2 separate regions of the Homo sapiens genome follow, and region 1 is linked to region 2. Evidence: fine-mapped expression QTL. A gene starts in region 2. The other region holds a variant in brackets. All regions are shown on one strand. Distances are between the middles of the regions.

Region 1 (4,000 bases), 20 kb after region 2:
AAGTTTTATGAGAGGCTGGGCGTGGTGGCTCACGCCTGTAATCCCAGCACTTTGGGAGGCTGAGGCGGGTGGATCACCTTAGGTCAGGAGTTCAAGACCAGCCTGACCAACATGGTGAAACCCTGTCTCTACTAAAAATACAAAAATCAGCCGGGTGTGGTGGCGGGTATGTGGGCCTGTAATCCCAGCTACTTGGGAGGCTGAGGCAGGAGAATCGCTTTAACTTGGGAGGTGGAGGTTGTAGTGAGCCAAGATCACGCACGCCATTGCAGTGCAGACTGGGCGACAGAGCGAGACTCTGTCTCAAAAAAAAAAAAAAAGTTTTATCAGAGCAATGTCTTTGTTTTGCACCCTGCTGTATATCCTGATTCTAGAACAGGACCTGGTGTATAGCATGATTTGCATTTTTAAAAAGAGCAAGCTGGGCACGGTGGCTCACGCCTATAATCCCAGCACTTTGGGAGGCTGAGGTGGGTGGATCATTTGAGGTCAGGAGTTCAAGACCAGCCTGGTCAACATGGTGAAACCCCGTCTCTACTAAAAATATAAAAATTACCTGGGCATGGTGGCGCCCGCCTGTAGTCCCAGCTACTCGGGAGGCCGAGGCAGGAGAATTGCTTGAACCCGGGAGGTGGAGGTTGCAGTGAGCTGAGATCGTGCCACTGCATTCCAGCCTGGGCGATAGAGCAAGACTCCATCTCAAAAAAAAAAAAAAAAAAAAAAGGACCAAATGAAAAGGACTTGGGGGAAGAGTACCTTTACCTTCATGTCGGCTTCTTCTCAGTGATTTTTATTTACTGTCCTGGGATATAAGTATCTATTTAAAATTTTTATTAAAATGCCTTATGTCAGCATGAGCTAGATTTCTTCCGTTAGATTTACAGATATGTGTTGTTTCTAGAATGTTTCTAATTGACTTGGACTCTTACTGTAATAGAAATTTACAGACCCATAACCCTTATTAATAAATTGGAGAGGCTGGGCGCAGTGGCTCACGCCTGTAATCCCAGCACTTTGGGAGGCCGAGGCGGGCAGATCACGAGGTCAGGAGATCAAGACCATCCTGGCTAACACGGTGAAACTCCGTCTCTACTAAAAATACAAAAAAATTAGCTGGGCATAGTGGCGAGTGCCTGCGGTCCCAGCTACTTGGGAGGCTGAGGCAGGAGAATGGCGTGAACCCGGGAGGCGGAGCTCGCAGTGAGTTGAGATCACACCACTGCACTGCAGCCTGGGCGACAGAGTGAGACTCCGTCTCAAAAAAATAAAAATAATAAATTGGAAAAATATGGAGGTTACTAAATACAGTTGAAATAATATATAGATAGTGCATAAAATGCCGGCATTTCCAAGTTGAGTACATACATTCTTACCTGAGTTTTTCTTTTGTTGTCTGTCTCTAAGTGGGAGCTGGTGAGGTGGCCAACTTCGCTGCGTATGCGTTTGCACCAGCCACTCTAGTGACTCCACTAGGAGCTCTCAGCGTGCTAGTAAGGTAAGGACACGTTTTTCATGTAGAAACAGTAGTCGGTATCTTAGTTTCTAAAATATTCAGTACCATCTAATTAAATATGTTCAACACAATTTACATTTCAACAACCTGGAGAACTTCGCTTTTTACACTACGTAGTAATTGCTTTTAAAAAGTTACTTCTGTGCATAGGCAGGCTATTGATTTGTGGGAGAAAATGCTTTGTCTTGCTTGTATTCAGAGCCAGTACTAGTTCTACTTCGATTTCAGTTTTTTAATATTCAAAGTTGGCTGGGAACAGTGGCTCATGCCTGTAATCCCAGCATTTTGGGAGGCCAAGACGGGTGGATCACCTGAGGTCAGAAGTTTGAGACCAGCCTAACATGGTAAAACCCTGTCTCTACTAAAAATACAAAAATTAGCTGGGCGTGGTGGCGGGCACCTGTAGTCCCAGCTACTCAGGAGGCTGAGACAGGAGAATGGCTTGAACGCAGGAAGAGGAGGTTGCAATGACCCGAGATAGCACCACTGCACTCCACCCTGGGCTATAGAGCGAGACTCTGTCTCAAAAAATAAATAAATAAAAAATAAGTAAAATTCAAAGTTACACTCATCCCAGTATTTATCATTCAGTGCATGTGCACTTTGGTAGGGTCTGGTTGGTAATGAGTAGATTTCTTTTTCTTTTTTTTTTTTTTTTTTTTGAGGCGGAGTCTTGCTCTGTCGCCCAC[G/A]CTGGAGTGCAGTGGCACGATCTCGGCTCCCTGCAAGCTCCACCTCCCGGGTTCACACCATTCTCCTGCCACAGCCTCCCGAGTAGCTGGGACTACAGGCACCCGCCACCACACCTGGCTAATGTTTTGTATTTTTAGTAGAGATGTGGTTTCACCATGTTAGCCAGGATGGTCTCGATGTCCTGACCTCGTGATCCACCCGCCTTGGCCTCCCAAAGTGTTGGGATTACAGGCGTGAGCCACTGTGCCCGGCCAATGAGTAGATTTGCATGCCTGGCCTGGAGTGCTTGTTTTGAATGAGTGATCTGAGATTTGTCCCATTTCTGCTTTGTAATGATTAGCCCAAACAACTAAGCCCATATTGATGTCTGGATCTTGGTTACTATTCCCAAAGTAGATTGACTGATTTTTATCTGTTTTTTTTTCCCCAAAAAACTATATGTAAAACAGGGTTATGGTATAAGTCATTGCCCTTTACCCTTAATTTTCTTTGTAGTATTTTGTTACTGTATTTATTGGTTTATGCTGTATTTTCTTTTTAGGTCTAGATAAAACTAGCTACAAGTTATTAAAACCTGATAATGTAATAGGCAAATTATATACAATTAACAACATAAGAGGGGTGCATGCATCAACCAATAGGAATAAGTTGAGTAAATTTTAAGCACTGGTGGTTTGGATAGAGATTCTTTTTTTTTTTTTTTTCCTTTGGAGATGGAGTTTCACTGTGTCACCCAGGCTGGAGTGCAGTGGCGCGATGTCAGCTCGCTGCAACCTCTGCCTTCTAGGTCCTGCCCCAGCCTCCCGAGTAGCTGGGATTACAGGATGCCCGCCACCATGCCTGACTGATTTTTGTATTTTTAGTAGAGATGGGGTTTCACCATGTTGGCCAGGCTGGGCTTGAACTCCTGACCTGAGGTGACCCGCGCACCTTGGCCTCCCAAAGTGCTGGGATTACAGGCGTGAGGCACTCTGCCTGGCCTGGATATAGGTTCTTAATTAGGATATAAATGTATACAAATTTGTTCTTTATTATAAATTTCATACTGACTTCTTGCAGTGGAAAGATGGTAAGTATACAGGTGTAGTGTATGATGAAGCAGATGATTCCCTAGAAATGTTTACATTTTATGATGAAATGTATACTTTTTTTCCTTGGCGAAAGCCAGAATCTTCATAAGTTCACAGTGTTTTAGTTTGATTTCAGTGATTTAAATTACGAGTTTTATTGATATTTGAAAAAGGAAAGTAGCTGATTAAAGTTCTCAATTTTTTTTCCTCCCCATTTTAGTGCCATTCTTTCTTCATACTTTCTCAATGAAAGACTTAATCTTCATGGGAAAATTGGGTGTTTGCTAAGTATTCTAGGATCTACAGTTATGGTCATTCATGCTCCAAAGGAAGAGGAGATTGAGACTTTAAATGAAATGTCTCACAAGCTAGGTGATCCAGGTAAGAAAAAAGTCTTATTAGTCTTACTGTATTTTACTTTTTAACTTAGTTTTTACTTTAATCGAAATTTGATGAGCACATAAGGAAAGAAATTGTTCCACCTGGTAGAAGAACAAATTGTCGTCATGTTCCCTGCTCCCTCCTATCAATCCCAAGCCTGTGTTTCTACTGTTCTTTAACTCTGTGTTTGTAAGTAGTGTGCGTATATTGCTACTACTTACTTCCTTAGCTTTAGGCATTATCTGTTTTACCTTTTATTTACTGTACCTATATAGTTTTCTTGAGATTGTTTACATTATCATTGATACATAACTTTTATTGTCATCTTAGTCTTTATTATGGTTGT
Region 2 (4,518 bases):
AAGCTTTAAAATTAGAAGCTGCATAGTGACCTAAACCAAAACCAGAGTGGTCAGGGGCTGTGTATACAGTCTAGAACACAACAGTCCAATAGGATTAGAGCCTGAAAAGGACAAATGATATTTGGTGTTTTGTTTCAAAAAGTGCATAATTCATTTTATAAAGATCCTCCCCCCACATGATTTGAATTTCATATAATAGTGTTTTTGTGTCTAGTCACAACCTGGAACAACATTCCTAAGGGACTCTACACCTGCAACCAAGGAATCATTGATTTACTAGGAGATCTAACTCTAGCTGGCTACTCTTTGCTTCTTACAAATGAGCTCTGTCTTTGACTACTTTTGCAGAAACCACGTTGGTGGATCCCAAGGAATTTCTCCTTTCCAGGAGGAGCCAAGGCAGGATAGCCTAACAGTTAGTTTCCTATACATCTCATGAAAAATAAATCTGCGCTTTGGGAGGCTGAGGCGGGTGAATCACGAGGTCAAGAGATCGAGACCATCCTGGCCAACATGGTGAAACCCTGTCTCTAATAAAAATGCAAAAATTGGCTGGGTGTGGTGGCTCACACCTGTAATCCCAGCACTTTGGGAGGCCGAGGCGGGCGGATCACGAGGTCAGGAGTTCGAAACCAGCCTGGCCAACATGGTGAAACCCCATCTCTACTAAAAATACAAAAATTAGCTGGGCGTGGTGGTGTGCACCTGTAATCCCAGCTACTGGGGAGGCTGAGGCAGGAGAATGGCTTCATTGAACCCAGGAGGCAGAGGTTGCAGTGAGCCGAGATCGTGTCACTGCGCTCCAGCCTGGGTGACAAGAAAGACTCCGTCTTAAAAAAAAAAAAAAATTAGCCGGGCGTGGCGGCGCGCGCCTACAGTCCCAGCTATTCGGGAGGCTGAGGCAGGAGAATCGCTTGAACCGGGGAGGCGGAGTTTGCAGTGAGCCGAGATCGTGCCACTGCACTCCAGTCTGGCGACAGAGCGAGACTCTGTCTCAAAATCAATCATTCAATCAATCTGCTCTCAGTGTCTCGAGGCGGGCTTTCACCAAACGTCAACCTCACATCTATTCCGCGACCGGGTCAGTAAGGAAGGGCCCAGCGGTCGTCGAACTACCACAGCTATTTCGGCCCCGCCCCGTCCCGCCCCCAGCTTTGGACCCACCCTTTCCCCCGCTTCTTGCCCTCTTGGGAGCTCTGTTCCCCTTTGGCATCGCCCGGGGACACCAATTAAATGCAGCTTCACACTGTGACTGCCCCTGGGAACCCTCATTTTATTTTATTTATTTATTTATTTTTGAGAAGGAGTCTCGCTCTGTCGCCCAGGTGGAGTGCAGTGGCTGATCTCGGCTCACTGCAACCTCCGCCTCCCGAGTTCAAGCGATTCCCCTGCCTCAGCCTCTGGAGTAGCTGAGATTACTGGCGCGCACCAACACGTCCAGCTAATTTTTGTATTTTTAGTAGAGATGCGGTTTCCCCATGTTGGTCACGTTGGTCTCGAACTCCTGACCTCGTGATCTGCCCGCCTCGGCCTCCCAAAGTGCTGTGATTACAGGTGTGAGCCACCGCGCCCGGCCGGAACCCTCATTTATTCTATTTTTTTTTGAGACGGAGTCTCGCTCTGTCGCCCAGGCTGGAGTGCAGTGGCGGGATCTCCGATCACTGCAAGCTCCGCCTCCCGGGTTCGCGCCCTTCTCCTGCCTCAGTGTCCCGAGTAGCTGGGACTACAAGCACCCGCCACCACGCCCGGCTAATTTTTTGTATTTTTAGTAGGGGCGGGGTTTCACCGTGTTAGCCAGGATGGTCTCGATCTGCTGACCTCGGGATCCGCCCGCCTTGGTCTCCCAAAGTGCTGGGATTACAGGCGTGAGCCACAGCGCCGGGCCCGGAATCCTCGTTTTAAATAAGGGCCACGCCGGAGTTTGATTTTGAACTGATCGGCCAACGCCACCTGGCAGCATACTGTACTGCTTAACTACGCTTCCAGCTTCGTCCCTCGCCAGGTCCCGCCTGGATCCTGCGCCCCGCCCCCGTCCCCACACTCTACGCGCCCCGCCCTCCGCGCTCAGCCGACTGGGGCCTTGTAAAGGAACCGGAACCCGGCGGGAGAGAGCCCCGGGGGCGGGGTGTACGTGGTGCGGCACTGCGCGTGCGCGCGAGGCCTCTTGCGTCATTTAGCCGCGCCTAGGTTTTCCGGCGCCGGCCCTAGGTCCCGGCAGCGGTGGTGACGGCGGTGCCGGAGGTTGTCCTTGGCAGGTTTTCCTCGGCGCTTCTCCATGGAGGAGGCGGTGCGAACGGCTTCAGCCCCGAATGCTCGCATCTCCCACTGGACGGCGACGAAGGCGGTGGCCGTGCGAGCGCAGGACTGGGCGGCCTGTGTGGGGGTGTGAGCCGCGGTGCCCAAGGCTGCGCCGGCGAGGGGAAGCCGCGCGGCCGGCCGGCCGACTAGGGTGAGGTCGCCACTCCTTCCTTTCAGGCAAGCGCGAAGGGGCTGACTTGGTGGCGAGCCAGCCCGCCTTGTGTCGGAGAAGGGTTCTTCGGGCAACTTTCCTTTCCGGGTGTTCTGAAGCGGTTTTCCTGTAATCCTCAGTGAGGAAACCCACCGTGAATCGGATTGCCGTTCAGTCCCACGGAAGCCTGGCTCGTTGGCCATGTCGGGGACGCATGTTCATTAAGTTCATTAAAATAATTTCATTTGTCTTGGTGAGTTTTAGAAGGTGGCTTCAGCTGCTGCGGGGATCATAACTGACAGTTAAACAAGCCTTAGAAGTCTGCTGTGACGTTTTGAGCCTGACTGTTTTAATTTCCTTTTATAAAATCACGGAATCCTATTTCCCTCTCTATACAATTGCTCAAAACTGTGTGTTTAGTTTGGTGTTTGTGCCTCCTTAATTTCTTTTCTAGGTTGTTAGTTCATTTAATACAGGACTGCATGTTAAGTTCTGTTTCTAGAAATCCTGTGTATAGCCATGTGCCCGGTTAATACTTTTTTTAGTAAGAGGAAATATCAGAGTCGAGAGTTTCCATTCCAGTAAGCTGCCTGTCGAAGCAGTAGTTGTGCTCGATTGAGTAGGTTTTATGTTGATTGGTTGGCAAAATGAGTATGAAGGCTAGTAACCAAATTATAAAACGTACTTAGTAACTTTAAGTCTTTTGCCTACTTCTGTGTTTTCTTCTTTCTAGGCTGGAGCTACTCGGCCAGGGTTTAAGACTTTAAATGAGAATAAAGGGTGGTATTTACGAGGAAATGAGAGTGAATAAGTCATCTCTAACCTCTCCCAGCCTTTTTTTCATAAGAGAGACCATATTAAACTTACATGTAAGTTAAAATTGTAATTTATAACTAATATTGTTGCATAGTTAGGGTTGGAGATTTAGGTTCTGTAATATTTATAAGTACAGTACTGCTTTGAAAAATTATTAGCCAAGTGAGAGGTTGGAAAAAATTAAATCTAACATGTATTTAATTTTTCTGAGCCAAGGTCTTGCTCTGTCCCCAGGCTAGACGGTGCAATCTGGGCTCACTGCAACTTCCGCCTCCCGGGCTCAAGTGCTCCTCCCACCTCAGCCTCCCCAGCAGCTGGGACCACAGACGTGCGGCACCATGCCTGGCTAATTTTTGTATTTTTTTTAGAACCGGGGTTTCACCATGTTACACCGGCTGGTCTCCTAATTCTGGACTTAAGCGATCCAACCACCTTGGCCTCCAAAGTGCGGGGATTACAGGTGTGAGCCACCGAGCCGGGCCTAAGCTAACTTAGATAGCAGTGGAAACCAGGTAGTAAAGATTTCGTAGAAAACTAAGAGCTCTATATATAGTTTTTTTTTTTGTTTTTTTTTTTTTGAGATGGAATCTTGCTCTGTCACTCGGGCTGGAGTGCAGTGGCACGATCTCTGCTCACTGCAACCTCCGCCTCCTGGGTTCAAGCGGTTCTCCTGCCTCAGCCTCCGGAGTAGCTGGGGTTACAGGCGCCGGCGACCACGCCCAGCTAATTTTTGTATTTTTAGTAGAGACGGGGGTTTCACCTTGTTGGCCAGGCTGGTCTCTTAACTCCTGACCTCAGGTGATCCGCCCGCCTCGACCCCCCAAAGTGCTGGGATTACAGGCGTGAGCCACCGCGCCCGACCTAAGAGCTCTAAAGTGTTAATGTAATGTGGGCAGCCGGGTGTAGAAGTAAAGTCCCTTTCTGTGTGGTCCTCTGCATGTGACTCTTTTTTACCCCTGGGAGGTTTCCTTAGCTGTAAAGTGATACCTTCATCTTATTGCGTAGAAGAGAAATGAGTAGAAATGATGCATGGAATAGTGCCTGGGGAGGTGTTCAGTAAGTGGTAGCTATTGTTAGGGAGAGATAATAAAAAGAATTTCACATATTTTCAGAATGTTTTTAATAGGTAAATATGGTTTACTCATATTTAAAACACATGACTTTGAATATTACATTTTTTTATAGATGGTGTAAGCTTCATTTAAACTGATTTATTTGATTGCTATACATTGTGATATTGAACAGAAAGATAA

What was found. PIP is the estimated chance that this variant, and not a neighbour inherited with it, causes the effect.
Region 1: its variant is the best candidate, but not a certain one, in a credible set for the expression of NIPA2 in monocytes (TOPMed, PIP 0.52).

What each region holds. Positions count from the first base shown.
Region 1 is chr15:22,857,136-22,861,135 of GRCh38, forward strand. It overlaps NIPA2 (NIPA magnesium transporter 2), which reads left to right. Exons shown (of 8, transcript NM_030922.7): 6 at 1,405-1,495; 7 at 3,494-3,654. Among named protein-coding and RNA genes, the nearest start is that of NIPA2, 20 kb to the left of the region's middle. The variant G/A (reference allele first, on the strand shown) is at 2,203.
Region 2 is chr15:22,836,473-22,840,990 of GRCh38, forward strand. It overlaps NIPA2 (NIPA magnesium transporter 2), which reads left to right and starts at 2,194. Exons shown (of 8, transcript NM_030922.7): 1 at 2,194-2,449; 2 at 3,183-3,318. RefSeq lists an enhancer at 2,091-2,320.